Homo sapiens: one gene and its partner. The protein of the gene in region 1 purifies or fractionates together with the protein of each later gene. This does not show direct contact. Each region holds a gene or a part of one and is shown on either strand. Other genes may lie near its edges. The genes, in order: FRMPD2 and PKN2.

Region 1 (15,653 bases):
TTGCCTTCAGTGGCACCTAATCCACTTGAGCTCTTCCTGGCTCTCTCACGGGTCACTGGCTTTGAGGACGCAGGCTGCTGGGGTGGCAGTGCCTGCTAACAGGCCAGAGACTGCGCAGGACCCAGGGAATGAGAGTGGTGGCAGGAAAGGGAAGGGGCCTTGTTGACTCACTCGCTGGGCAGCAAGTGCTTAGTGACAAGCAGTAAACAAAGACAGCGGCAACAGTGCTGGTGGCAGGGAGCTCCGCGGACAGACTTGCAAGAGACCCCTGCTCCTTGTTGGAAAGTTGTCCCATGATGAAGGCCTAGACCTGGTCACGGAGACTTTTGGATGCAGCCTTTAACGAAGGACGCAGGTATTCCTTGGCATCATTCAGTTTTCTCCTATAAATCTGGTCAGGGAAAGGGCAAACTTCTTACTGGGTCTAGGTATCCGGAATAAGAAGAACACAGCTGGGCAAGGACCTGTGTCAGTGCCCTTTGTGGTATTATTTGGAGTATTATTTGTTCCAGGCCATTGGCTAAGCCTGATAGACATTGTATTTGTTTTTTAGCAATAAAGAATGGGCTCAGAAGAGAAAACATGGACTTTAGAATCAGACCACCCCTTGTTTGAATCACTGCTTTGCTATTCAGCATCTGTGCAAATTCAAATGACTCTTTTAACTTTCCTAAGACTCGTTTTTCTTACCTGTAAAATGGGGATAATAATGCCCCATGCGTTACGATGTTGCTGAGGATTCATGGGGTGACACGCGTAAGGCACTTAGAACATACTTGGAGCATTTGAGTAGCCCAGTAAATCATGGCTGTCACTATCTTTCAGAAGCAAGTGTTTTGGTTATTGCTTAAAGAGTATCAGTGGTTTAAAGTAAGAAGACTCAGGGTATGCCTAGCTGACTTCCAGAAAACAATGGAAAAGAAATGATTCACCTGGCTTTATTTGTATGCTTAAAGGAAAGAAAAAACTCAGTTGAGGTTTTCAACAGTGTAAACAACTTTTTTTTTTTTTTAAAGCAACAATTGAGTTCAGAGATGAGTCGTGTCTATTTCTCCTGGCTAAATCCTGTGATTTGCTATAGGCTGTAGCTGAAACCAATTAAGTAGTTCATTAATTCAACGAGAACTTACTTGGTATCTCCTGGGGCCACATGCCAAATGCTGGGGATGTCTCCCCCAGCCCAGAGGATCTTCCAGGTTGTAGGACAGTGGGGGTCGGGGGGCAGAATGCTGGACCTGCATGAAAACTGGCGGTGATAGCAAGTGCCGAAATGGAGGTGGCACGGGCTCCTGGGAGAGGTGTTGCTTGAGCATGGCTTTAATGCTAAGCGAACACTAGCAGGAGTTGGGAGCAGGGGGATTGGAAAAGGCATCCCAAGCAGAGAAAAGCACATGCAAAGGCCCAGTGGCATGAATAAGTAAAGCATGCTCTGGGAACAGCAGGCAGTTTGGCCTAACTTTAGTAAAGTGGGAACAGGGGAATCTGATAAGAAAGGAGGCTGCAGAGGTGAACAGGGGAGAGCAAGGAAGGCCTTCTATGGCCCAGAGTTCACTCAGAAGGTCCCAGATAGGCACTGGTAGTTTTAATGAAGGATGTGTCGTGTCTGCATTTAATATTAAGAAGATTAATCTAGTAGCAATATGGGTGTGGGATTGGAGAGGATGAAACCTGGAATGATGACAGATGGCCTAACCTAAGAAAACAACAGTGGAATGTAGAGAAGGGGAGGTCTCCAAGCTGGTGCTGCCAGCACTGTGAGCAAAAACAAATACATATGCATCTAATAAGTTCATTATAAATTTTACTGATATGAAGGATGTATATTGCACAATTTACAAGTAATAAAATATAAAATACTCTTTATTACAAATTCTATATAGCCATTTGATTCTCACAGCATGCATTTGTTGATTTTTGCTGAACTCTTATACCCTTGGTCAGCCTGTTTGCAATTGACCACTGAATGTAGTTCCAATATGAATGTTGGTTGATATTTTTGTTTACATTGACAAGTAAGAAGAAAGTGAAACAATGAAGATGATTGTCTTAACTTCACTCATCTGTCAATGACATGAGTGACTGCTGGATCAGATCATAGTTTTTGAATTTGGAAGAGTGTTTTCCCAATTTTTGTGTTATTCACAATGTAACAACTATGGACGCGACACACTTTTAGGTTTAATCTGCATGAACATTTTCTCCATCACTTTCTTAGTTTTCTTAGGGAATGAAAAAACAGCAAACCAAGCCCTAATTTGTAGCTTTTGCCAATTTTTGTGGTATAAATACTACCACCATGGCCAATCACAAGCTCCCAATGTGATATCGCTGAACACAAAGGTGGAAGGGCTGTGCACCAGCACACCATTACACAGTATTTCCATCATAGAAATGTATTTCATTTAAATAAGTTCCAAAGCACAGACAACAGTAAAATGCAGTAAAATAATTTGGAAATGGTGAGTTTCAACATATTGTTAATATAACTTATTTAATTGGAGATTTTTATAATACTTTTTGGTAATGGCTGTGTTTAATGACCAGCTTACAAAATTTCTGGAAATTTAACAATTGGCTCTCACAGGCCAGTAGGAGCCTTCTTCAGCATATCACAGAATCCAAGAAAGGTTTAAGGAGCAGAATACAGAGTGGTGAGAAAATGACTCATGGGTGCAAATGAAGGGGGCACGAAGGAAGAATTAGGAAGAATACTTCCTTCTCTCTGGGGATGAAGCTGTCACTCACCAAAATGTTGGACTTATTAAAAAGAACACCATGAATAGATGACTATGAATTCAACTGCTCAGGAATAGCAAGGGCTGCGGTGTGCAGCCCAGGACAATGCTACCTGCAGCTCCATTAGTGAAGTCATTTCTGGTCTGAAACCCCAGTTTTGCTGGCTTGTCTCTAGCCTATTCCCTGCCCTCTCCATATACTCAGGATTCATAATATGAATAGCTAGGATTTATTGAAAAACTGCCATATGCCAGACACAATAACTCATGGTATAAACGAGTAAAGAGAGGAAGTAACTTGCCCACGGTGAGGTGGGATCAATCCAGCTCTGACCTCGGAGCCTGCTCTTCCAGCCACTATGCTTTTCTATTCTCATTCCCCTCCTGAATTGTATTCACCCTGAGATATCAGTGTTTTTAGCTGCTTTCCTGGCAGAAGTCTGCTTTCGAGGCTGATTCCTATTCCTCAGGCTTCCTTTTACTGGTCGCTGGCAGCTCTACTGTTAACTGCCCTCCCTTTTTTTTTCTTGCCTTGGCTGTAAGCCTCCTTATTCCTGTATTTGCTTGAGCTATCATAGCCCAACATTGTTGGAAATAGAGTAGGTAGTGAAGGGAGGCAGGAAGGAGATGTGTAGGATGGTGCACAGGAACCAGTTCCAGGAGGGCTGGTGCCAGGCAGGAGGCAGATCAAGGCTGAGCTGTCAGAACTCACTCTTCAATAGATTCAAGATGGGTTAAACAGTGTCTGGCTGGAGAGTAAATGTATTAGACATTTTAAAAAAGTGCCATCTAGGAATTTCTTTTGTTTCTTCTATCAGTATCATTTTTGTATGATGCCAGTCCAGAGTGCAGGCAGCATCTGAAGTATTCACTTGTTAATTTACTGAGTCATTCAGCCAGTGGGGGAAGAAGGAGCTCCAGATGCGAGTGTCCCCACAGAGCCTGCAGAAGGACAGGAGGCAAGGGGGTTGTGGTGCGTCTAAGGCTGGAAAAAGGCCATGGGGGAAAGAGGAAGCTGCTAGAGATCAGTCCAAAGCGGTGGGCCTGAGGTCCTGCAAATCTTGCTCAGGATCTGAGCTGATCCTTTGGAGAATAGAAAGTGGCTGAAAGTTTTCACGAGGTGTGACATGGTCAGATTTGTGTTTTAGGAAGAGGACTCTGCAAGACAGAGAATGGATCAGGGCAGGGGCAAGGTATGGTTGTAGGAAACCATTTTGTAGAATTTACATTTCAGTGGTCATTCAGGGGAGGGTGCTGGTGGCTTAGACCAGGTCAGTGGTGGTGGGGTTGGAGAGAAACAGGCGGATTTTAGAGAGATTTTGGAGATGGTGATTAACGGGCTGGGAAGTTGAGGGATGGGAAGGAGACAAAAATGTCGTCTGAATGTTTGGCTTGAGGGGTTAGGTGGTGGGAATGCCATTTGCTGTATTCAAATAAGAGAGGTTGAAAGAGGAGGAGGTGGGGGGAAGGTGAATTCAGCTCTCTACATCTAAGGGGGTTGTCTAAAGGACATCCTGGGATCACCAAGCAGGAGCTCAAGAAACGGGTCTGAGCTTAAGACATGGCTGTGGAGGGGATGGACTGATGGTTGGTAACTTTGGAGCATGTAGAGTGATTTGAAGAGGGAGCCAGGGCAGAGAGAAACCCAAAGACCACTGACATTTGGCATTGCCTTTATTCATTGTTACAAATAATACCATGGCAAATATCTTTGAATATACATCTTTGTCAATTATGTTCTTGGCATCAATTCCCAGAAGAGGAAGACCCTGATGGCAGGAATGGACATCCCTTGGCTTTTGATACAGATTGCCAAACTGCTTTACAAATCAGCTGTCGCAAATTGGCCACACATAAGTAAGGTCTCTGAGAGGAACAGTGTCATTGCCACCTCATGGGCACTGAGCGCTCATCATCGAAGCCCACTTGAGGGATGAAAATGGGCCTCGAGACCACGTCCACTAGCAGCTCCTTGGATTATAGGCAGGAGTGGACAGTTTTTCCATATTGTTTAATAAGGAATCACCGTTTCTTTTATGACTTTTCTTAGTCTCACTTTCTCAATTACCTACTGCTGTTGGGCCCATAAGATTTTTCTCTCTGATTCTTTGCACAGAAATAGTCACTTTCGGTTTGACCTTCATCCCTTATCCCAGCTGGCTGTATAGCTCTTTGTAGATATCACTGTGGGAAGCAACTTCCTGACTCAGGGCCTGAGGAGGGGTATGTGGTAAATAAAGCCCAGGAGAAGAGCTTGAGACCAGAGTCCTCTCCCTGAAACCACTCGGAGTGGGATTCTGGACAAGCCTTCACCCTCACACCTTGGCTGTCTCCCATTTCCCATCTGTGCTACAGCAGGTCTCCTGGGTCTGTCAAGTGTGAGTTAAGGACCCCCTCTTCACTAACCAGTATTTTTAATGGTCTGCTCTGGATGGATTAATTTGACTGAATGAAGCTGCTTCACTTCTAGAGGAAAATTTTTAAACAAAGCATTCACCCAGTGGGGTTTGTGACAGGGCAAGCCACTTCTCAACCTGCATTAGGCTGGGAACCCACGGACGGCCTGGCCCTGCCTGAGTCCCATCAGCCAGAGGTTTATCCCTCAATCATCACTGCAGGAGGAGAGAAGGCTATGCTCTCCGTGAAGGGGGAACTCTCAGGCCTGTTCAGCTTCTGCATCCCTCTGAAGGCTGCATTTCAGTGACGCTGGCCACCCTTGTACTAGGTACCACCTGCCCCACCAGCAACATCCACATGCAACACGCCTCTGTGCATCCTATTTCCTATATGCTTAGAAATGTTCCCTAGGAGGCAGAGAATTGGCATTGCTGGGACTTGGCAAATACATGTTCTCAATTTTGATAGATGGCTCTGAAAAATCTATACCAATTTAATTCCCATGTTAATGGGTGTTATGAGAGGGCCTGGTCTGCAGCCCCCACCTTGCTAACATCAAATATTTAAATTTTTGACCCTCTTGATAAATTCTCATTGCTGTTTTGTTTTCCCTGATTTACTAGAAACACAGCAAATCTTTTCAAATATTTATTGAGTAGTTGTATTTTTTCACCTGTTTATTTCTTAACTTTTAAATTAAAGAGTTGTTTTTTTCTAATTGATGAGTAAATAGTAACCCTTTTGCCATTATATATATTTTCTCCTAATCTGTTGCATATTTTTGTTTACATTTAATTTTCATATATGGTCAGATAAAAAGTTGCAAAGAAGTTGCAAAGAGCACAGAGAAGTCCCTATACTCTTCCTCCAGTGTCCCCCAGTGATTATATCTTACCTAACTACAGCACAATGGCAAACCCAGACATTTGACATTGGTACAATATGTGTGTAAAGTACTATGCCATTGTAATACTTGTGTAGATTTATGTAACCACTACCACAATCAAGATACAAAACTATTCTATCGCCACAAAGATCTCCCCCAGCTCCCATTCTACTCCCTACCACCCTGCTTCTACTATCTCTGAGATCAGTCTCACAAGCTGTGACCTTTTGAGACTGGTTTTTCTCATTCAGCCTAATGCCCTTGAGATCTAATCAAGCTGTTGCACGTATCAATAGTTTGCTCTTTATTGCTGAGTAGTATTCCATGGTATGAATATACCACAATTTGTTTAACCATTCACCAAATGAAAGACATTTTGACTTAACAGTTTTTGGCTATCACAAATAAAGCTGCTATTACAAATAAAACACACACGTTCACATGCAGCTTTGTGTGTGGATATTCATTTTTTTTCCTCTGGGATAAGTGCACAGAAGCACAATTGCTCAGTTGTATAGTAAGAGTATGTTTAGTTTTTCTCTTTTTTAAAAAGAAACTGACAAACTCTTTTCTGAAGTGGCTGTACCACTTACATTCCCACCATCAACTTAGAAGAGATCCAGTTTCTCTGTATCCTCATAAGCATTTGGTATTGTCACTTTATTTTTTTTTCCTGTCATATAGGTGGGGAGGGATATCTCATTATAGACTTCATTTGCCTTCCCCTTATGGCCAGTGATGTTGAACATCTTGTCATGTGCTTATCTGCGATGTGTGTATCTTCAGTGAAATGTCTTTCCATGCCATTTGCTCATTTTTCTAATTGGATTGTTTGCTTTCTGCTGTTAAGTTTTGAAACTTCTTTGTAGACATCCTACATGTGAGTACTCCATATTAAGCATGGCACCTAAACCTACTTTCTGCCTCTATGGATTTGTTTATTCTGGATATTTCATATAAATGGAATTACACAATGTGTAGGCTTTTACATCTGGCTTCTTTCACTTTAGCATAACGTGTTCAAGGTTCATGCATGCTGTAGAATGTATCAGTACTTGATTTCTTTTTATGGTTGAGTAATGTTCCATTGTATGGATGGACCACATTGTGTTTATCCATTCATCCCTTGATCGACACTGAGTTGTTTCCACTTTTTGGTTATAAATAATGTTGCTATGAACATTCACATATATTATTTGTAGAAATATCTATTTGAGTCCTTTGCCCATTTTGAAATTGGATTGTTGGTGTTTTTGTTAAGGAATTGTAGGAGTTCTTCATGTATTCCAGTTACTAGACCCTTATCAGATTGATGATTTGCCAATATTTAATATTTTCTGCCATTCCGTGGATTGTCTTTTCAGTTTCTTGATAATGCCCTTTGATACAGAAATGTCTTTTGATGTCTGTTGTCCGATTGGGTCATTTCTCTTGTTCTCTTCTCAATCCGTGGATTCTCTACTCAGTCTTCTCCATTCTGCTGTTGAGCCCACCCATAGTGTTTCTAATGTTGGTTATTGTATTTTTCAGTTCTAAAATTTCCATTTGGTTCTTTATATTTCTTTGTTGAGCCTTTCTATGTCTTTGTTTTTATTGTGCTTGTCATTGCTCACGAAAATCCTGGTCAGATAATTCTGACATCTGAATCATCTTGGTACTGGCTTCTGTTGTCTTTTTTACTCAAGTTGAGATTTTCCTGGTTTTTGATATGATGAGCAATAGCGACTGAATCCAAGATGTTTGGGTACTATGATATGAGACTCTGGACCTTACTTAGAGCTTCATTTTTAGCAGATGTTCCCTGATACTGTATGGACAGAAGGGCTCTGCTTCATTACTTCCGGGTAAAAATGGAAGTCTAGACCCCCCACTCAGTCTCTCTTGATAACCTTGAGGGCATCTTGTTGTGACTGTTCTGGCTCCCCTCTAGTCCTCTGCTGACACCACCCTTGCTAGGAGGGTCGGGGACACCTTATTACTGCTCCTCATGCAACACGTCAGGGGATGCCTTGTTACCACTGCATGGTGGTAAAAGTACTGACCCTCTCTTACACCTTCCCTGGCACCACCCCCGTGGGGAGGCCAAGGGGCATCTTGTTATCACCAGAGGAAAGTGGAAGTCTAGGGTGTGACGCAAGTCACCACTAGGTGGGAATGAGAGTTTCAGCTCCCACTTGGCCTTCTCTGAACTGACTGTGTGGAAGAAATGACTGTGCCTCATTGTAGCTGGATGAGTGTAATGTCTGGGCTCTCCCTAGGCCCTTGCTGACTATTTGTTGAAAAGACTATCTCAAGACTAATTGCCTTTGCTCCTTTGTCAAAGATCAGTTAAATGTATATGTATTGGTCTATTTTTTGACTCTATTTTGTCCCTTTAATCTATTCGTGTATTCTTTCACCAACATCACATTGTCTTGATTAATATACCCTATAATAACTCTTTTTTCTCTTTTTTAAATTGAAGAATGCATATTAGAAGTTTTTATTTTTTATTTTACTTTTTAAACTTTTATTTTAGGTACAGGGGTACATGTGCAGGCTTGTTATATGGGAAATCTCGTGTCACCAGGGTTTGTTGTACAGATTATATTATAAACCTGGTACTAAGCCTAGGACACAATAGTTATTTTTTGTGCTCCTCTCCCTTCTCTCAGTCTTCATCCTCAAGTAGGACCCAGTGTCTGTTGTTTCCCACTTTGTGTCCATATGTTCTCATCATTTAGCTCCCATTTATAAGTGAGAACATGCAGTATTTGATTTTCTGTTCCTGTGTTAGTTTGCTAAGGATAATGGTCTCCTGCTCCAACCATGTTCCTGAAAGGGGCATTATCTCATTCTTTTTTGTGGCTGCATAATATTCCATGGTGTATATATACTACATTTTCTTTATCCAGTCTACCATTGATGGACATTTAGATTGATCCCATGTCTTTGCCACTGTGAATACTGCTGCAATGAATATACACATGCGTATTTCTTTATGATACGACGATTTATATTTCTTTGGGTATATACCCAGTAGTGGGATTGCTGGGTCAAATGGTAGTTTTGGTTTTGGCTCTTTGAGGAATTTCTACACTGATTTCCACAATGGTTGAACTAATTTACACTCCCACCAACAATGTATTAATATTCCCTTTTCTCTGCAACCTCACCAGCATCTGTTATTTTTTCTTTTTATTAATAGCCATTCTGACCAGTGTGAGATGGTATCTCATTGTGGTTTTGATTTGCATGTCTCTAATGATCAGTGATATTGAACTTTTCTTCATATGCTTATTGGTTGCATGTATGTCTTCTTTTGAAAAGTGTCTGTTCATATCCTTTGCCCACTTTTTAATGGGGTTGTTTGTTTTTTTCTTATGAATTTCCTTAAGTTTCTTATAAATGCTGGATATTAGACCTTTGCCAGATGCATATTTTACAAATATTTTCCCCTACTCTGTAGGTTGTCTGTTTACTGTACTAATAGTTTATTTTGCTGTGCAGAAGCTCTTTAGTTTAATTAGATTCCATTTTTCAAGTTTTGCTTTTGTTGCAATTGCTTTTGACATCATCGTAATAAAATCTTTGCCAGTGCCTGTGTCCAGAATGGTATTGCCTAGGTTTTGTCTTCCAGAGTTTTTATAGTTCTGGGTCTTACATTTAAGTTTTTAATCCATTTTGAGTTTATTTTTATATAATTGTTTAAGGAAGGAGTTTTGTTTTAATCTTCTGCATATGGCTAGCCATTATCCCAGCACCATTTACTGAATAAGAAGTCCTTTCCTCATTGCTTGTTTTTGTCAGCTTTGTTGAAGATCAGATAGTTGTAGGTGTGTGGCCTTATTTCTGGGCTGTCTATTCTGTTCCATTGGTTTATGTGTCTGTTTTTGTACCAGTACCAAGCTGTTTTGGTTACTGTAGCCCAGTAGTGTAGTTTAAAGTTGGGTAGCTTGATGCTTCCTGCTTTGTTCTTTTTGTATAGGATTGCCTTGGTATAGTAACTCTTGAAGTTGGATAGTTGGATCAGTCCTACAACTTTGTTTCTCTTCGTCAGTATTGTGTTGTCTGTTCTAGGTGACTTGTTTTCCCTTTTCATTTAAACTTTAGAATTAGTTGTTGATATTCACAAAATAAATTTCTGGGATTAAATCTACAGACCGAGTTGAGAATAAATGACATTTTAACAATATTGAGTCTTCTCTCAGTGAACATAGAATACTCTTCCTTTATTTAGATTTTAAAAATATTTAAAACAAATATTTTTATTTCTTTCATCAGAATATTGTAGTTTTCCTTATAGGGATCTTATACATATTTTGTTAGGTTTATTTCTACATACTTCAAAATTTTTTGGTGTTAATATAATAATTGATATTGTGTTTATAATTTCACATTTCAGTTGTCATTGCTGATGTTAATTAAAGTCAAAACAGTTGAGTTTTGTGTATTAGCCTTTTGTCCTGCAATGTTTCTATAATCACTTATTAGTTTTAGGAGGTTTTTTGTTCATTATTTGAGATTTCATACATGGACAATCATATCATCTCGGAACAGAGATAACTTTATTTCTTTTTTTCTAATTTATATACCTTTTATTTCCTTTTCTTGTCTGATTACATTAGCTAGGACTTCCAATGGTGAGAGGGGACATCTTTGTATTTTTCCTGATCTTAGCAGGAATACATCTAGTTTCACACCCTTAGGTCATGTGTTGGCCGTAGATTTTTTTTTTTACATATTTTAAAAAGATTAAGTCGAAGAAGTTTCTTTCTATTCCTGGTTAACAGAGAGTTTTTAATCATGATTTGCTGTTGGATTTTGTTAAATGCTTTTTCTGTATTAATAAATTTGATTATATAATTTTTCTCTTTAGTCCATGAAAGTGGTGGGTTACATTAATAAATTTTCACACCAGCCTTGCATACCTGAATTAAATTTCACTTGGTCATGGTGTATGATTATATTTATACATTGTTGGATTTGATTTGCTAATATTTTGAAGAGTTTTGCATCCTTGTTCATGAAAACTATTGATCTGTAGTTTTACTTTCTTGCAAGATTTTTATCTGGTTTTGGTATTGGGACAATTATGGCCTCATAGAATGAATTAAGAAATGTTCCCTCTGCTTCTATTTTCTGGAAGAGATTGCAGATAATTAGCGTCATCTTTTCCTTAAATGTTTGGTAGACTTTAACAGTGAAATCCTTTGGGCCTGGTGCTTTATGTTTTGGAAGGCCATTAATTATTAATTCAATTTATGTAATACGTATAGGCATACTTAGATGATCTATTTCTCTTTGTATGAGTTTTGATAGATTTTCACTTTCAAGGAATTGGTCCGTTTCATCTAAGTCATTACATTTGTGGGCATATTATCCTTTTTAATATCCATGGGATCAGTAGTGATGGCCCTTATTTCATTTGTGATTTTAGTTATTTACATCTTCTCTCTTTTTTTTTCTCTCTTGGTTACTTGGCTATGGGTTTATCAGTTTTGTTGTTGTTTTCAAATAATCTGCTTTTAGTTTTGTTGATTTTCTCTATTGTTTTTCTGTTTTCAATTTTATTGATTTCTGTTCTAATTTGTTATTATTTGCTTTCTTTTATTCAGGTTCATGCTGTTATTTTTTCTGTAGTTTACTAAAGGTGGAAGGTTAGATTATTAATTTTAGATCTTTCTTCTATTCTAATATATGCATTTAATGTTAGAAGTCTCTGTATAAGTACTTCCTTCATTGCATCTCACAAATTTTGGTAACTTGTATTTTCATTTTTGTTTAGTTAAAAATATTTTTTATTTTATCTTGAGATTTCCTTTTTGACCCATTTGCTGTTTAGAAGTGTGTTGTTTAATCTCCAAATAGTTGAGGATATTCTGGCTATCCTTCTGTTATTGATTTGCAGTTTGGTTCTACTGACAGAACCAAATCTCCATGAGAGAAATCATACTTTGTATGATTTCTGTACTTTTAAACTTGTAATCTCAGCTACTTGGGAGGCTGAGGCACGAGAATTGCTTGAACCCAGGAGGTGGAGGTTACTAGTGAGCCAAGATTGCACCACTGTACTCCAGGCTGGGCAACAGGGCAAGAACCTGTCTCAAAAAATAAATACATAAATAAACATAAATAAATAAATCAATAAAGTTTATGGCCCAAAATGTGATATATCTTGGTGAGTGTTCCATGTGAAACTGCAAAGAATATGCATTCTGTTGTTGTTGGATAAAATAGCCTACAGCCATCAACTAGATCCAGTTCTTTGGCAGTGTGTCTAGTTTAACTACGTCTTTACTGATTTTCTGTCTGCTGGATCTGTTAATCCCTGATAGAGGGGTGCTGAAGTCTCCAGGTATAATAGTAGATTGTTTATTCCTCCTTGCAGTTCTACCAGTTTTTATGTCATGTATTCTGATGCTCTGTTGTTAAGTGCATATGCATCAGAGATTGTTATGTCTTCTTGGAATATTGACCTCTATCATTATGTAATACCCCTTTGTATTCCTGATAATTTTCTCTATTCTGAAGTCTGCTTTGTCTGAAGTTAAGATGGTTACTCCAGCTTTCTTTTAATTTGTGTTAGCATAGTATATCTGTCTACATCCTTTTAGTTTTCTTAAAATTAATCTTTTTATTCTTCCCTTTACTTTTAACCTATTTGTGCCTTCATATTTAAAGGGGATTTCTTCTAGACAACATAACTGGGTTTTATTTTTTAATCTACTCTGTCAGTTTCTGTCTTTTAACTGGCATACTTAGACCTTTATATTTAAAGTGATTATTGATGTTGTTAGATTAATAGCCACCATATTTATAACTGTTTTCTATTTGTTGCAATTGGTTTTTGTTTCTTTTTAAGATCTTCCCGTGTTTTTCTGCCTTCTCTAGTTGTAATTGAGCATTTTATATTATTTTGGCATGTAAGTTATACTTCTTTTAAAAAATATTTCTAGTAGTTGCTCTAGAGTTTGCAGTATACATTTACAACAAATTTAAATCCACTTTCAAATAGCTCATGTGTAGTACAGGTACATATTACAGAGTAATACCCGTTTCTCCCTTCCAGCCTTTATAACTGACTGGCATTTATTTTACTTATTTATAAGGCATAATCACCCAAGATGTTGTTGCTATTATAATTTGAAAAACAGTTATCTGTTAGATCAATTAAGAATAAGGGAAATAAATGGCTTAAGATCTGAGTTTCTCTTCTGTATCATTTTCCTTCTCTCTGAAGAACTTTTAAAATTTCTTGCAAGGCAAGCCTACTGGTGACCAATATACTCAGAAGTTTTGTTTGTCTGAGAAAGTCTTATTTCTTTTCACTTTGAATGTTAACTTTGCAGTATACAGAGTTCTAGATTGGTAGTTTTTTTATTTTTACACTTTAAATATTACGTCCTACGATCTTTTTACTTGAACAGTTTGTGAAGAGAAGCCCATTGTAATTCTTATCCTTTTTCTGCTATATATGTAAGTTACATTTCTCTCTCTCTCACTTTTTTTTGCTGGGGAATATTAATTTACCATTATTTTTGCTTTTTTAACTTTTAAGTTTAGGGTTACATGTGTTTTTTTTATTTATCTTGCTTGATGCTTTCCAAGCTTCCTAGATCTGTGGTTTGGTGTCTGTTATCAATTTTGAAATATTCTCAGCCATTATTCAAATTTTTTCTATTCTTTTCCACCTTCTCCTTCTGGTATTCCCTTACACATATGTCACACCTTTTGAAATTGTTCCACAGTTCTTGGATATTCTGTTCCATTTTTCTTCATTCTTTGTTTTCTTCACATTTCCATTTGGGAAGTTTCTACTGACACATCTTTAAGCTCCTTGATTCTTTCCTTGAAGGTGTCTAATCTACTGGATGAGCCCACCAAAGGCATTCTTCATTTCTCTTGCAATGCTGTTGATTGCTAACTTTTAAGAAATTTTCTATTTTTAGAATTTCCATGTCTCTGCTTACATTTTACCCATCTATTCTTGCATCTTGCCCCACCTTTTCCATTTGAACACTTAGCATATTAATCATAGTTATTTTACATTTCTGGTATGATAATCCCAAGATTTCTGCTATATCAGAGTCTGGTTCTTTCACTTGTTTTATCTCTTTAAACTGAGTTTTTTGTTGTTTTTATACATGACTTGTAATTTTTTGTTGAAAGCTGGACATGATGTATGGGGTAATAGGAACTGAGATAAACAGACCTTTAGTGAGAGCATTTATGATTATCTGGCTAGTAGTAGTGCTGTGTTTACTGTTTGCTATAGCTGTAGGTATTATAATTAATTTTATGTGTCAATTTTAATGAAGCCATGGGCTGCCCAGATGAAATGTTATTTTGGAACGTGTCTGTGAGGGTATTTCTGGAAGAGATCAGAGTTTGAATTGTGCTATGGGCAGGCATCATATAATCTATTCAGGGCTGTAATAGAACAAAAGACACAGGAAGGAGACACTCATCCCTTTTTTCCTACCCAGCTTGAGCTGGGACATCTCATCTCATCTCCTGCCCTTGGACTGGGATTTACATCATTGGCTTCTGTGGTTGTTAGGCCTTCAGACTTGGACTGAATTATACCATTGCATTTCCTGGGTCTTCAGCTTGTAGATAGCAGATTGTAAAACTTCTCAGCCTCTATAATATATAAGATATCTATCTATATCTATCTATACATATATGTATATAGATCTATCTATCTACATATATATATAGATCTATCTATCTATCAATCTATCTATCTATTCTTAGCCATTATTACCTTAAATGTTTCACATATTTTTCTACTCTTTTCCATTTTCTCCTTCTGGTGTCCTTTTACACATATGTTATACCTTTTGTAATTGTTCCACAGTTCTTGGATATCCTGTCCAATATTATATATTGGTTACATCTATATCTATATCTATACATCTTATTGGTTCTGTCTTTCTGGAGAACCCTAATACAGTAGGTATCTGAGACTTCAATTTTTTCTGTTGTTCTTGTTTTTCTCTCCCTTCTTGTCTTTACCTTTTCCTAGAAACTCCTTCTTAAGTAGAATCTGGGCCTTGCTGTTCTTTAGCTGTCATCTGCTGTTCTTATGCAGGAGTCCTGGTGATGAGGTGATAAGGTGGGAGAAAAGGGTATGTACTTGCTCTATAAGTCTATGAATAGTGAGTCTATTACCCCAGGCTATGACCTTAGCTTCCTTCTTCTTAAGATTAAAAAAAAAATGTGTATGTGTGTATACTCACACACACACACACACACACACTTACACACACACATTCATGTACTACTGGTTCTGTTTCTCTGGAGATCACCAACAGATTAAGAATACATTACATATTAATCAAACATCATGTGAAATCGTTCTTCTTATATACAAGTCACTAGATTAATAGCGCATAATACTTTAAATTTAAAGGTTCGAGACAAAGTTGCTTTTTAAATTCAGAACTTTAATAAATTGAAGACCAATTTAAACCCATATAGCTTTAATTAGTCTTGTTAGCTCAAAACCCCAGCCTTCCACTTTTGCAGAAATTTAAATTTACTAGCTGTGTGGCTTTTGTGACCTTAAGTCAATTAAATTCTTAGTTTACTCATCTGGAAGTGGGGATCGTTTTTGCCTTTTTATTTTTAAGGATTTTTGTGTGAATCAC
Region 2 (15,653 bases), on another chromosome or scaffold:
AGCTTGTGTTAGAGTGTAAAACATCACACTGCTTCCCTCATTAAGAAGCCTTATTGTCAACTGAACTAAATAGTGTATTGGTGATGTAGCTGATCTCTGTAATTCGTGGCCCAGCAGCTAGTTTGTGAACCACACCTTGACTAACACTCACTGCCCAGGACCAAGCAGATTATGAGAAGGCTAGTCAGAATTAGAAGACTATAAACATTGGATTATTTAAGCTTTTTTTTTTTTTTTTTGAGACGGAGTTTCGCTCTTGTCACCCAAGCTGGAGTGCAATGCACAATCTCGGCTCATGGCAACCTCTGCCTCCTGGGTTCAAGCGATTCTCCTGCCTCAGCCTCCTGAGTACATGGAATTACAGGTGCCCGCCACCATGCCCAGCTAATTTTTGTATTTTTAGTATAGATGGAGTTTCACCATGTTGGCCAGGCTGGTCTTAAAACTCCTGACCTCAGGTGACTACCCGCCTCGGCCTCCCAAAGTGCTGGGATTACAGTTGTGAGCCACCGTGCCCAGCCGGTAAGGTTCTAATGATGTTTTCATGATAAGATTGTTTTACCTAATGGATAAAATGTTTCCTGGGCACAGTGGCTCATGCCTGTAACCCCAGCATTTGGGGAGGCCAAGGTGGGAGGATTGCTTCAGTCTAGGAGTTTGAGACCCGCCTGGGCAACATAGTGATATTCTGTCTCTACAAAAAAATAACAAAAATCAGCCAGGAGTGATGACATCTGCCTGTATCCCAGCTACTCAGGAGGCTGAGGTGGGGGAATTCCTTGAGCCTGGGAGGTCAAGGCTGCAGTGAGCCGTGATTATGCCACTGCACTCCACTTAGACAACAGAGTGAGTACCTTGTCTCACAAAAATAAAAAATAAATTGAAAAAAATGGATAAAATATTGTCAGTTTGCCTAATTTGTAAACAATTAGTATGGATGGATAGCTTTCTCTTATTCTTTCAGAAGATGAAACCTGCCCTCTGATGCCTTATTAATACTGTTAACTTTACAATTCTTTCTTATGGATGGTATATAAGCAAACTTTAAAACTGGATTAAGTTGGCCAGGTGCAGTGGCTCATACCTGTAATCCCAGCACTTTTGGAGGCCGAGGCAGGTGGATCACCTGAGGTCAGGAGTTCAAGACCAGCCTGGCCAACATGGTGAAAACCCATCTCTACTGCAAATAAAAAAAAATTAGCCAGGCTTGGTGGTGGGCACCTGTAGTCCCAGCTACTTGGGAGGCTGAGGCACGAGAATTGCTTGAACCTGGAAAGTGGATGTTGCAGTGAGCCAAGATCACACCAGTGCTCTCCAGCCTGGGTGACAGAGTGAGACTCTGTCTTAAAAAAAAAAAAAAAAAAAAAAAAAGGCTGGGTGTGGTGGCTTACGCCTGTAATTCCAGCACTTTGGAAGGCTGAGGCCAGCGGATCACGAGGTCAGAAGTTCAAGACCAGCCTGGCCAAAATAGTGAAACCGCCTCTCTAATAAAAATACAAAAGTTAGCCGGGTGTAGTGGCACGCGACTGTAGTCCCAGCTACTCGGGAGGCTGAGGCAGGAGAATCGCTTGTACCCGGGAGGCAGAGGTTGCAGTGAGCTGAGACCACGCCATTGCACTCCAGCCTGGGTGACAAAGTGAGACTCTGTCTCAAAAAAAAAAAAAAAAAGGATTAAATTAGATTATCACAAATAACAAATTAAATACATTTTTCCTTTTTTATGTAACAGGAGAAGAATTTCTCATGAGCTACCTTATATAGAGTAATAAACTTACCAAAAGGAAGAAAACTGAATGTTTGTGTTATAGTATTTAAATCTCAAATCATAACTTGGAAATCCCATTTTTAATAAAGAGAAAACACAGTTCCAATTGCAATTATTTTTTTAACTGTATAACCTACTGATTTCTTTGATTTTTTTTTTTCATGCTGTATCTTTTTATCCTGAACAGAGATTTGAAATTGGATAACTTATTGCTAGATACAGAGGGCTTTGTGAAAATTGCTGATTTTGGTCTTTGCAAAGAAGGTAATCGAATGTTTTTAAGTTTCTTTTCTGATTCAGAATTACTGTTTCTTTGTGCATCAGTAGTTTTCAAGTTTGTCTATGGAAAACAAACTGTACTTTTAACTTTATTCTTCATTAAGACATTGTAGATACAATGAAAACATTGCTTATATAACCTAATTATCACATTAAGAATTTGTTCTCTGAATACAAATAAGGTTAGATGTATAGAAATCATAGTAAGCTTCTCTGTGTGATTAATAATTTTGTCACTACTTTAAGGAAGTATTGATTAAGCACCAAAATCGTTTATTCTGGTGAGACTGTACACAGTGAATTTCATAGGCCTGATAATTTCCTTCCAGCTTCTTAAAGTTGAAACATTTAAAAATAGAAAATAAATAGAGATAGGTATCTCATGTATGTTTTTTGTATATTCAAAAGTAAATAAGTAAATTGGGGAAATTTGAATCAGAGGTAACATAAGAAAGGATAAAGATCATGGGCTTAGGCACTAAACAGTTCTAGGTTTGAATCGTGGCTTTGCCACTATTTGCTGTTTGTCTTTGGAAAACTTAGTTTTAACCTCTTTGAGTCTTATTTCCCCAATTATAAAAAAATGGACATAGTTCTTTCTGTTTACTAGTTACTAACATTCTCTATCTCCCTCTGCACTGGTGGCTTCTGTTTGCTATTTAGCTTTGTTTCCATAGTGCATAACACAGTGCATGGTACATCTTAAGTATTCAGTAAGTGTTTGATTAATAAGTAGTTGGATGAATAAATGAATGAACTCTGTAGATATATGCCCATCACATACCCACTGACCTAATTGCTGAATCAAGTAAGTTTTTTCTTGACTGGGCTTCTTTTTATTGGACACTGTTCCTCTAAATGCTTTTGTTTCTCAGCATCTCTCCTTAGCCGGCTGCTCTTCACTGCAATTTTTTGACTAGCAGCTATATCCTAATGACTCCCAAATCTATTATTTCCTTTCCTATGGATTCCAAAGATATATATTCAACTGTCTACTAGACAGCTCTGCCTGAATAGTGAAGAGACACCTCAAACACTACCCAAACAAAAATCATTTATTTTCCGCCGGTAGTCTGGGTGTTGGTATCACAATCCCCTCAGCCTTCAATCTGAAAGTAAGGAATTATCTTGCGTTCTATCCTGTTCTCTACTTCCCGTATGTAGTTATTCACAAAATTCTACTGCCACTTAACCTCCTGAATATTTCTGAAATCTATCATTTCCAGTCAGCTCCTTTCACCCATTATCTTGTTTTGACAAGACAGGTATAATAATCTCCTAATTGTTCCTATTTCTAGTCTTTTTCTATCCCAAATCAACCTGCCATGTAATTGCTGAATTGCTTAAGGAGTCCATATAAATACAGATCGGACCATGGCACATACCTGCTGAAAACTCTTCAGTGGCTAGGATAAGGTGACATACAGTGCCGTTACTGATCTGCCTGCCTTCCTCTCTGGCCACATCTCTTGCTGCTCTCTGTTTAGTACTTTTTGCTGCAGCAACAATGAACTGCTTATAGTCTGTGTCCCTCTAGCACTGTCACCCATCCCAACTCTATTTGCTGACTAACATCTGCTCATCCTTGTCATTCAACTCAAGTGTAACCTCTACAGGCAAGTTACCAGAGATTCCCTTTTACTACCCCAACTCCCAAGTCTGCTTTAGGAGCCCTTCTTCACTATTCTACCTTATCTTGCTCTTCCCTTGTTGTTATAAAATTATCAATAAATATCCATTTCCCTCCAGTCTCCTGTAAGCCCCTTAAAGACTGTGTCTTACTCTCGTTTTTATGTTCCCGCTACTTGACACAGGTGCCTAGAACATAAAAGGTGCAGAAAATATGTGTGTTGAATAACCAGACTTATTAATGCATTATCATAAAAACATGTTTAGTAGATTATATAGCTAACAACTTTTGAGTGCTTACCGTGTGCCAAGAATTTTGCTTCATATGCATATCTCCTGTAATTTATAACAATCGTATGAAGGTAGATAGTTTTTTTGGAGGAAATATTTTATTTTTTATTTTATTTTTATTTATATAAATTTATAGGGTAGAAGTGCAATTTTGTTACATGCATAAATTGCATAGTGGTGAAATCAAGGCTTTTAGGATATTCGTCACCCAAATAACATACATTGTACCTATTAAGTAATTTCTCATCATCCACCCCCCTTCCACCTCCTCACCCTTCTGAGTCTTCCTTGTCTTATCATTCCACACTGGTAGATGGTATTATTAACTCTCATATACAGATGAAGAAACCTAGAATTTGATGTTAGACAACTTTCCCAACCTCCCACAGTTAACAAATGACAGAACTGGAACTTAAACCAGGTATTTATTAATCTAGAGCCTGATATTAACCACTTCCATGGAGTTTTACCAGTCTACAAGAAACATAAGTTATATTTCTTCATTAATTAACTTTTTCCTAGTTTTCTCCAAGTTACTAAAAGGCTGGTGCAGAACTTACATAGATATTAATACTATATCACTGTTTTTTTAAATAATATTTTATTGAAGAAAATAAAAATCATTATGATAGTGTTAAAGAAATTTTGCCAAAAAAAAATTTCTCCACTCCAGTGTGCTAATGTATCTAATTGTGCCCTTCAGGTCTTGGTTCATAGACACACATTCATTTCTATTTTATAGTCACTATATATGCATACCTAATTATTCTTAATTTAGGATTGAGAGCTTTTCTTTAAAATTCTTAAAAAGATGACACTTATGACAAGTTTTTAACACTTTGGAATACATAGAGATAATATCTTCAATATGTAGACTATATATTTGATTAACATATTAATAAATTATGAGGAACATATATTTAAAAACTAGTTAGCCAAAATGTTAATACAGGCTGAGTATCCCTTATCCAAAATGCTTAGAATGAGAAATGTTTTGAATTTCAGATTTATTTGGATTTTGGAATATTTGCATATATAAATAATGACATATCTTGAGGCCAAGACCCAAGTCTAAACACAAAATTTATATATGTTTCATATATACCTTATACATAGCCTGAAGGTAAATTTATATAATATTTTTAATAATTTTGTGCATGAAACTAATCTTAAGTACTTGCGGAATTCTCTATGGCATCATGTTGGTGCCCAAAAAGTTTCAGATTTTGAAGCATTTTAGATTTTGGATTTTTGGATTAGGGATGTTCAACCTGTACTCTCCCTTCCCTCCCCTTCCCTTCCCTTCCCTTCCCTTCCCTCCCCTCTTCTCCCCTCCCCTCCCGTCCCCTCCTCTCTCTCTCTCTATATATAATATATATTGAGATATATATATGTTTTTTGTTTGTTTGTTTTTTGAGACAGAGTTTTGCTCTTGTCACCCAGGCTGGAGTGCAATGACACAATCTCAGCTCACTGCAGCCTCCGTCTCCCAAGTTCAAGCAGTTCTCCTGCCTCAACCTCCCGAGTAGCTGAGATTACAGGCGGGAGCCACCATGCCCGGCTAATTTTTGTTTTTGTTTTTTTTGTAGAGACGGGTTTCATCATGTTGGCCAGGCTGGTCTTGAACTCCTGACCTCAGGTGATCCACCCGCCTCGGCCTCCCAAAGTGCCGTGATTACAAGCATGAGCCACTGCACACGGCCCTATCTCTCTGTATTATATGACACATTTGGTCAGCTTCTGATTATCCAAGGGTTTGCTTTTTGGTATTTTTGAAACTTATTTTTTTTAGAATGTTGATTTTATAATGAAGTAAATAAACTTATTTAAGATTGAATTGGAAAGATAATGGAACTTCACAATCAGTTCATTTTGTTATAATTTCTTAGCTCCCTTGTAATGACAAGAAGAAAAAGTAACTGAAAAGAAACATGGATATCTTATTTCTATTTACCCATTAATTAGACAGTATAGTTGCTATTGCAGTTTTTGCTATACCAGTCCTTACTGTTTTCTTGAAATGTCTTAGATATGTCTGAATTTGTTCACCATGCACAAATGTGCAACTTTAATTTTGCCTCCCAAAGATAGCTTTGATTTTTTTTTTATGCTAGATTTGTTTTCTTTGCTAACAAATGTTTACATTTTATCTTTTCCAGGAATGGGATATGGAGATAGAACAAGCACATTTTGTGGCACTCCTGAATTTCTTGCCCCAGAAGTATTAACAGAAACTTCTTATACAAGGGCTGTAGATTGGTGGGGCCTTGGCGTGCTTATATATGAAATGCTTGTTGGTGAGGTAAGCAGTGTGAAATAGGTAAGAGAACAGAGGAAGGATGATTGAAATAATAAAGCATGTCATTTATAAAACCACCTAATACTGTCTTCAGTATGAGTGGAATTTAAGTTTTATAAATATTTATAGTATACTAGTAGTCAGCTATCTTTCTGTAATACCTTCAATAAAGATTTTTATGTGGTTTGTGGAATGCACTATCAGTGCTTTGAAAATAGTTCCTTGTATTTCAGTATTGTACTTTTATTATGTTTTCTGATTTTAAGACATAGTCATTTTATAGGGAATGGAATAACAGAAAGACTAATAAAAGGAATGTACTCTGTACCTGTAAAGAAAAGCCCACTATAGATTGGTCAGAAATAAATGTTACCTTCGACTTCCTCCAGACTTCCGTCTGAGCAACACACTCTGCATCCTTGCTTCACCGGGAAACTACTGAAGTTCCTGGGGAAGCAAAGTAGAATTTCGTAAGAACAAAATGGATGGAGAGAGGAGAAAACCTATGGTAGCTGTGAAGGCCCTGATGCCATGTATGTCAAATTGATATCATCCGATGGCCATGAATTTATTGTAAAAACAGAACGTACATTAACATCAGCACGATAAAAGCCATGTTGAGTGGCCCAGGTCAATTTGCTGAGAATGAAACCAATGAGGTCAATTTGAGAGAGATACCTTCACATGTGCTATCAAAAGTATTCGCTACACCAACAGCTCCACCGAGATTCCTGAATTCCCAGTTGCACCTGAAGTTGCTATAGAACTGCTGATGGCTGTGAACTTCCTAGATTGTTAAATAAAATATAATTTTAAAAAAATGAAAGAAGTGTTACCTTAAAAAATGGTAGAGTTGAAAAAATTCGCATTTTTTCCTACTGTTTTCTGTAGATTAACTTAAATTTCTGAGGATAATTGAGTTGTACATAGAAATTATTACTATTAGGAAACAGTGAGTTATGTTAAGGCAATAATAGGAGACTAATAATTTATTATGTTATAAATTGTTAGAAATGTTGAATTGGGATGAAATTGGGAAAGAGTAAATCTTTTAATAAGTAATTGAAGATTACTTGAAGGGACTTGAACTGGAGATGCAAGAAAAATTATTTTAAGGGATTGGTTCATTATTCTGCAGTTTCCCCATGCCAGCAACCTCCCTTGTACACTTGTAAGTTTGAAGAAGTTAGTGCTGAATGAACAAATTATCAAATTGAATATCAGAAATTTCTAAAGTTTTGTTCTATGCTTGTCATTTATTGGCACTTACCCCAAACAAATGGTTTTAGTTTCGCCGGATGGATAACCCCTTTTGGTATGTCAATTTGAAGTGGATTCCTTGGAAAAGGAGGAGAAGTATGGCTAATTAAAATTTATCATGTGCTAAGCACTGTACTGTATGCCTTAAATATTAGTTCATTTAATTTTGCAACAGCCTTTAATAAGCTCAGTACTGATCTTCTGCCCATTTTCGGAGGTGTAAATAGAGACACAAAGAGATTAATGACTTGCTTAAAGTCACACAGCTCTCATATGGTGGAGCTGGAATTTTAACCTTGTCACTCTGGCTCCAGAGCATATCTAAAGCATTATGCTTTGCTGCTCCAGGACAGGATCTTCAATTCATCCAGCCTTGTTTCTGTTCTTAAGACTAGTGGTCCAGATCTGAATTTTTCACCTCTATTTAGAAAAGCTGTTGTGCAGTGTTTAGGTTGGAAAGATTTATTTTAGCTCCAGTCCACAGTGGCTTTTACTTTCTGAGAGTGCCAGAAGTTCTCATAAAATAGTTAATCTGCTGTAAGCTCTGGCATACTTGAACTCCTCCCCACCCCCTTCCTTTATTTTAACAGTAACATTTTGGAGGGTTTTTTTGGTTTTGTTTCATGTAGTATTCAAGTAAGTATGAGATTTATGAGATTCAATTATGTGCTTGCTTAAAATTTACTCTCCATATTAGAGATGACATGTGCAAAATATGAGTTTATTACAAAATACTGTAGAATTAATCCAGTTGAATCTACTCCCTCCTATTATAAAGCCACTGGAGGGTTTGGCAGAAAACAAGGAAGCTCCTGTTTCATGTTTTTTAAAAGAGCTAATTGATTGAGCTCTTAATTACCTAGAAGATAAAAGACAGTGGATCTGGCTATTTCTTCACAGTTGTTTCTTGCAATTTCTCTTTAGTATCTCCACAAGAGGGTAGCTGGGAAAAGAACTAAACTTAAAACTCATCAGTCTACTTCATAATTTTATAGCATTAGTGAAATGCTAGTGATAACTCCTTTTTAACTATGATGAAAGTAAGGTGTGGCTAAAGTTTATGTCAGATTTCTCTATTATTACAAATAATTGTAAACTCACCGGATATATTATACATGTTCAGATTTGTATACTTCTACTAGTTTTGATTACTGGAAAGACTCCAGGAATAAACAAACATCGCAAGTCCCCTTTTTCCTGTCTCAGATGGGAGTGAAGATACCAGAGAGATTGAACAGAATGCTGGACATGGTTTTAGATACTGTCAGTGTTGACATCTGAACAGACTATTGGTTTCCTTTAAATGTGCTGAAAACACATTTGTTAGCTTTCAGTTGTTAGCCCTGTTTGCTTACAATCTATTTGCAGAAAAAAGATACTACATATTTTAACAAATGTATAGATATTTCTTTGCTGTTCAGACTTGTAGAATGAGTTTTCAAGTAAAAATTGTTCAAGCAGAAGACCAAAGTGCTGTCTTTGTATTATCCATTGAAATTCCCATTGAGAATCCTAGTAAAATAAAATTTTCTTCTGACTTACTGTTTCAGTCCCCAGAAGAAATTAGATTGTCCATGTAGTACATTTGATTTATGTATTTTGAGTGTACTACATTGTCCCACGTAGTATATTTTATTTATGTATTTTGAGTGAGTGAATGAACAAACTAAGGTTTTGGTAACTGTAAGCTTTGAAATTTTCTTAGCTGTGAGCAAGATTAGAAGCTCAGCCTTAAGAAGTTGGATTCTGAATTTATTTTCACAGATTCTTAAAGATTGCTCACTTTCCCTGGATATTGCTTTCTGCTTATTATTCTTTAAAACTTAATTGGAAGCAAGCAGCCAAATCAAATCTAACGAGGCTAAGTAAGCCTATATTTCTTCAATAGCCAGTGAGAAAATAAGGTTCAAGATACTAATTCATTTCAGTGATTTTAAGGAATTAAATGATATTTAGACATTTGTTTCCTGATTTAAAAAATGACTGAGTGATTTTTAAGCCATCTGAAATTCTGAGGCAGGCAGTCACATTTGATAGACACGTTTTTAGCATAGTTGAAAGTTTCTCTCTTTGTGAATCAAATTGTCATACTGAATATAATGTAACTACTTTTTTATGTCTCAGGGTCATTATGAAAAATGATTTTAATACTGAGCTTATGGAAATGCCCTAAAACTTTTTGTGTTTAGAACATTAAAAATGCCTGGCAATGTGTGCTTTTTGGGTTCCTTTCAGTCTAATTTTGTTGGCAGCTGCTTCTTAATACAGTCATTATGCTTGCTAATCCATGATTGTGTTTTACCACCATTAATTTACTGTTGACTTTAAAATCCAAAGCACATTTATATCTGATGTATTTCCGCAGATTGCCTTCCTTTATTATAACATTTATTACCATATTAACCTTATCCATTTTCTTCTGTTTTTCCACAAGATTGAGGTTCTTCAGGATTTATCTATTATCTAAATATTCCCTACTGTCTGTTAGACACTAAAAATTGACTGTCTGGCCAAATAGGTGATTGAGTGAATGAAATAAAATGGAATGGAGTGGAATGAAATTAAATGAAAAGTCATATCATATATGAGATAGACAAGTTTTTTATAAGGGTCTATAAAATTTAAAGATTTCAGAAAGAGTATATGGTGTATTCCCTCTGTAATAGATACATATCTGTTGTCACTTCTTATAGTTCTTTTGTTGTTGTTTTGGTAGGCATGGGTTTATTGTTGTTGTTGTTGTTGTTGTTGTTTTGTCTGTTTTTTCTTTTTCACTGCCTGGATCTTGGTTGTACTTTGAATGGGTGATAAGATTTTACTGCCTTAAAACTTGCTTTAACTTACTCAAAGGTATTTCTTCTAGTCTCCCTTTCCTGGTGATGATGAAGAGGAAGTTTTTGACAGTATTGTAAATGATGAAGTAAGGTATCCAAGGTTCTTATCTACAGAAGCCATTTCTATAATGAGAAGGGTAAGAATTAAAATAAGGATAAGAATTTTTTAAAGACTACTTTAATTTTTTATACTAAAGAAAATTTCCCAGTAGAACTTTAAAAGCTGTTTTTCAGTTCATAAATGTTGCATGGCTTAGACAAAAAAAGACAAAATATATCTAAGTTTTTTAAAGTAATAATCCTTATCAGTGAATTTTATTCTATTGGTTTTATTTTAACTTTTTTATTTTACATTATGCTAGCTGTTAAGAAGAAATCCTGAACGGCGCCTTGGGGCTAGCGAGAAAGATGCAGAGGATGTAAAAAAGCACCCATTTTTCCGGGTAAGTGTGACTATTTAAAATTTTTTATGAAACTAGAGCGATTAGATTTAACAAACTAAACTAGTCATTTTTTATTTTATGATCCAGCTAATTGATTGGAGCGCTCTGATGGACAAAAAAGTAAAGCCACCATTTATACCTACCATAAGAGGACGAGAAGATGTTAGTAATTTTGATGATGAATTTACCTCAGAAGCACCTATTCTGACTCCACCTCGAGAACCAAGGATACTTTCGGAAGAGGAGCAGGAAATGTTCAGAGATTTTGACTACATTGCTGATTGGTGTTAAGTTGCTAGACACTGCGAAACCAAGCTGACTCACAAGAAGACCTCTTAAAAATAGCAACCCTTCATTTGCTCTCTGTGCCACCAATAGCTTCTGAGTTTTTTGTTGTTGTTGTTTTTATTGAAACACGTGAAGATTTGTTTAAAAGTACCATTCTAATACTTCTTCAAAAGTGGCTCCTCATTGTACTTCAGCGTAAATATGAGCACTGGAAACAGTTTCATGGAGTTTAAGTTGAGTGAACATCGGCCATGAAAATCCATCACGAATACTTTTGGATCAATAGTCTATTTTTAAAAAGAAAGAAAAAAACCACTTTTTTATAGTCCCTAGCTTTGCCATATGCCCGCCTTAAGTGGAAGGAAAGTTAATCACTTAACTATGTTTTATAAAAAGAAAAAAGGGCTTGGAATGCTATTACTGTTCACACAAAGTATGATTCTGTTTGAATAAGGCAAATGCTCCTTTTTTTAAAAAAAAAGACATTACTGTAATATCAAAAACCGTGGCAGTTTGTATACAACTCGGGGCTTGATTTTTTTTAAAAAAACAGAATGAATTGATGTCTTATTTTATAAATGTTCTATATTTATTAGGAGAAAACTTTATATTGCCTTTTTTATCAATCATGTAACAGGCTTATAGCTTTCCAACAGAGCTGCTTGCCAAACAATTTTTTTTGTTTATTAAACAGTGCTGAAACAAACAGGATCAGCATTTACTTAAGATGTTAAGAATGAGGACTTTTAATCAGCCGAACCAAGATATTGTTACCTGTATGCATTCCCAAAGTCTAGATGCTCAGTATGTTCAGTCATATCTTTCAGAATCAGTGAACCGATTACCCTTTTTTTGGTATTCACTCTACATCTGCCAACCTAGTTCACCTTGGTTTTGTGTCTGCTGTAGAAGGGAACCATAACTTGGTTAAACCGTAGGGATTATCATTGTATACATGCTGTGAACATGTATATGTGCAAGTTTTAATGTATTCTATGTTGTAGGCTTATTATTTAATTTTACCACTTCATCACTTTTGTACAGTGGCCAAGCAGACACCTCAAACTCCAGCATTTACATTAAGTGCATTTGTACATTTTAGGCCACTGGATCCAGATTTTATATTGGCAGTTATTGAGGGCAAAAGCAATATATTGTAACAGAATGTATAAATATTTTTGATAAAACAGTCTATATTTTATTAAAAAATGAATTATAACACTAAAGCTGTACCTCAAAAGTCTCAAAAATAATTTGATGAAATATTTTATACAACTCTTCAAAGGATCCGTCTGTGGCTTTTTATACTCTTTTAGGGTTGTCTTTTTACAAACCATGACTTTCCACTTGCCTGTAGTTTTTTGTTTGTTTTGGTTTGGTTTGATTTTATATTTTTTTCTCCTAATCTATGACTTTATTGTTTTTTCTTAGTTTAGTAATAGCATCTTTGATCCTGTGCTTAGCATGTTAGGGTCATTATACCTCAGGAATAGCAAGCTGTTAAGTAACCATACTGAATTAACTATTTAATTACAGTGAGCTCATCTCTTAAAAATTGTTCAGGTGTAAATCTTATGAGAAACATGAAAAAGCACACTGATTTATGGAGAGTTGAGCTAAAAACATTTATAAATATTTGCTGGGATGTTTTAGCATCTTTTCATTGTACTCTGAGAACAATTAAAATTGTCCAGAGATCATTTATATTACCTTCCAAATTGTTTATTACCCAAGATCCTTTGGGAGAAAATCTTATAGAATGGGGGAACAATATGTGGTTTAAAGTTATTTTAAAATGCCAGTTAATTTCCTCGGCAAAGGACAATAGAGGAACTTAGCTTAATTGTCTGGCTTTAATTTAAACTGTGTTAATACAACATTAAAATAAAACACTAAATACTTTTGAGGTACAGTCTGCTCACTTTTTTGGTTCTCAAATAGCAAAGAAAGTAATGTCTAAAATAGGCTCTTAGCATTAAAAACTGACAGCATTTCGTAACTACACAGTGTACAGAATTTTTTTTTAATTGAAGTCAATCACTAAAAAAATTAGAAGGCAGGGTCTATTTACACAATTAAGCTGAAGAAAGCACTAATTTTTTGTAGTTTAAAATATATATATATTTTAGTCAGATTTAAAATTTTAAGCTTTATAGAGTGTAAATATATTTTGCTATTACTGTATGTGTATGTGACTGCTCAAGCACTTTGTAAAGAAATTAGGATATTTTAGAATGGTACACTATGCATTCAAATGAAATGTGCCTTTCACTATGTCATTCTAAGAAAACAAGTGTTTTTTGCAGTCATAAATTATCACAAATGCACAAATTAAAGTCTATATAGATTGAAATTTGTAACTTTGGTTTTAAGTATTCTTTCCTTTTAGAAACTTCCTAATGATTAAAATATACTTTAACTTTTCTGTGTTCAAAATCTCAAAGACTAATTAACTTTAATAAACATTCTTGCAAGTACTTTTTGTCCTAGTGAAGGCTTAAAACCATGAACATTCAGAGCAAACTGTCCACTTCATTGGGAATAATGGGAAAAGTTTGTATTCTGCTCCTGTAAGGTCAGTAGCATCTTTTATTTGAAGCATATTTATGGACTGCTTACTGTGTATAGATACTGAGAATAGGAAGTTTTTTTTTTTAAAGCAACAAAATGTTGATGAATGAAGAACAGCCTGTTTTAATTAAGATGCAAGCACCAGTATTGTATGTACTTTTCTCTTGTTTGAGGTTAGCTTATTTTAATTTAGGACCTGGCTTCTCAAAAAGGCAAATGAATAAAACAGAATACTAGTATTTTATAGTAATCTTACTTAAAAATTACAAATGGAATATTTTAGAAATATAAAATGATCCATGCTCTCCCTGTAACACAAATTGAGGACATAATGGAAATTGCAATCATATATTGACTTGGTAAATCTGCTGTACAGATTCAAGTCTAACAAGATTTTTGCAAGTACTGCCAGTATTCCCAAAGCCACTGAAGGAGTAAGTATGAAAAATCCAAAGAAGCAAATACTAATCCACAGATCATAACCTTAATTTAAATTTAGAATTCTTATTTACCTTCCAGCCATCTTTTGAGGTCTAGGGTTTTTCTGAGATACTGGCTTTATACATTAGTATGATGGGTAGAGGCTTTAAAGTTATTAAAAATAATATGTATACATATACATATAAAATTAGTGGAAGACCGTCAATAAGATACGTAATTTGAGGTATTGATGATCTCAATAAAGGTAAGAGTGGTCTCTGGCAACCCTTCACCCCAAAACAAGCAAACAAACTTGAGCAGAGTCTGGACAAGTTAGGGCTTCAGCACCTAAGAGTTAGAGTGGGAGTGCTCAAGCACAAAAGTAGGAATATTGAGAGAACTGGAAGCTGAGTCTACAGAGTATGGCAGAGTAGCAGGAAGTTGGAAAAGATAGGAGTCACAATGGCAAGGAGCAGGTTTTGAAAATGCAGGCACCCAAGAGAAGTGGGGTTACCAAGGATAGATTTCTCTAGCAACACAATTTTGAGGATAGCAAACCTTGCAATAGCATCAGGACTTATCTTCTGTGCTTAAATCCTGTAGACGAGTTCATATTTTAGTTTGCATGTCACTCTTTCCCTGACAGTGGAAGGAAATATTCTCTGGATGGAAGCTTCTCCAGGTTGGGACTATCAGATTCCACAGATTAAGATCAAGTAATTCACTGTCAGAAATCCCTAACCACATGCGAGAGACAGCAAGTTACCTTGAATAAGAACCAACAGAAATATTAAATTTAGATATCCCTGTCAGAGATTTCGTACATTAGAATTATCAGCCAGGCACAATGACTCATGCCTGTAATTCCAACACTTTGGGAGGCCAAGGCAGGAGGATTGCTTGAGGTTAGGAGTTTGAGACTAGCCTGGGTAACACAGCGGGACTGCCTCTCTACAAAAAAAAAAAAAAAAAAAAAAAAAAACATATAAAAATTAGTCAGGTATGGTGGTGTGCACCTGTAGTCCCAGCTACTTTGGAGGCTGAAGTCAGAGGATTGCTTGAGCCCAGGAGGTCAAGGCTACAGTGAGCTGTTATGCCACTGCATTGTATTTAGCCTGGGTGACAGAGCAAGTCCCCAACTTAAAAAAAAAAGAATTACCAGATACAAGTTATAGAATAGCTATATATAAAGTATATATACATATATATACCTAAAGCTATCAGTATAAACATGTAAAATGAACATTTTAACAAACATTTTTAAAATCCAAAAATGAAAAATGTAATTGTTCTAATATGAAATTCAGTGGAAAGATTAAACAGCAGATTAGACAGTTGAAGAAAACTGAAGATTGGAAACTGAAAAGTCAATCCCAAATGAAGATGGGAAATATAAAAGGGAGATTAAGAGATACGGAAGATGGAATGGAGACTCGAGGAAAGAATGAGAGGCAATATTTAAAGACATAATGGCTGCAAGTTTCTCGGAGATGAAAAATATCCAAGCAGTACAATATTTCCCAAACAGGATAAATATAAATGTATGCGTAGAACCATTGTGAAATGGCAAATCA

Evidence for each region.
Region 2: the proteins of FRMPD2 (region 1) and PKN2 purify together in Homo sapiens (affinity purification with mass spectrometry; 3 studies listed by BioGRID and IntAct, with this or other methods). This does not show direct contact.

Annotation. Positions count from the first base shown.
Region 1 is NC_000010.11:48,259,245-48,274,897, reverse strand, and holds the start of FRMPD2 (FERM and PDZ domain-containing protein 2), read left to right. Parts: upstream 1-201; 5' UTR 202-330; coding exon 331-355; intron 356-15,653.
Region 2 is NC_000001.11:88,822,358-88,838,010, forward strand, and holds the end of PKN2 (serine/threonine-protein kinase N2), read left to right. Parts: intron 1-1,952; coding exon 1,953-2,029; intron 2,030-6,123; coding exon 6,124-6,266; intron 6,267-10,386; coding exon 10,387-10,494; intron 10,495-10,719; coding exon 10,720-10,800; intron 10,801-10,887; coding exon 10,888-11,091; 3' UTR 11,092-13,898; downstream 13,899-15,653. UniProt on the Homo sapiens protein: PKC-related serine/threonine-protein kinase and Rho/Rac effector protein that participates in specific signal transduction responses in the cell.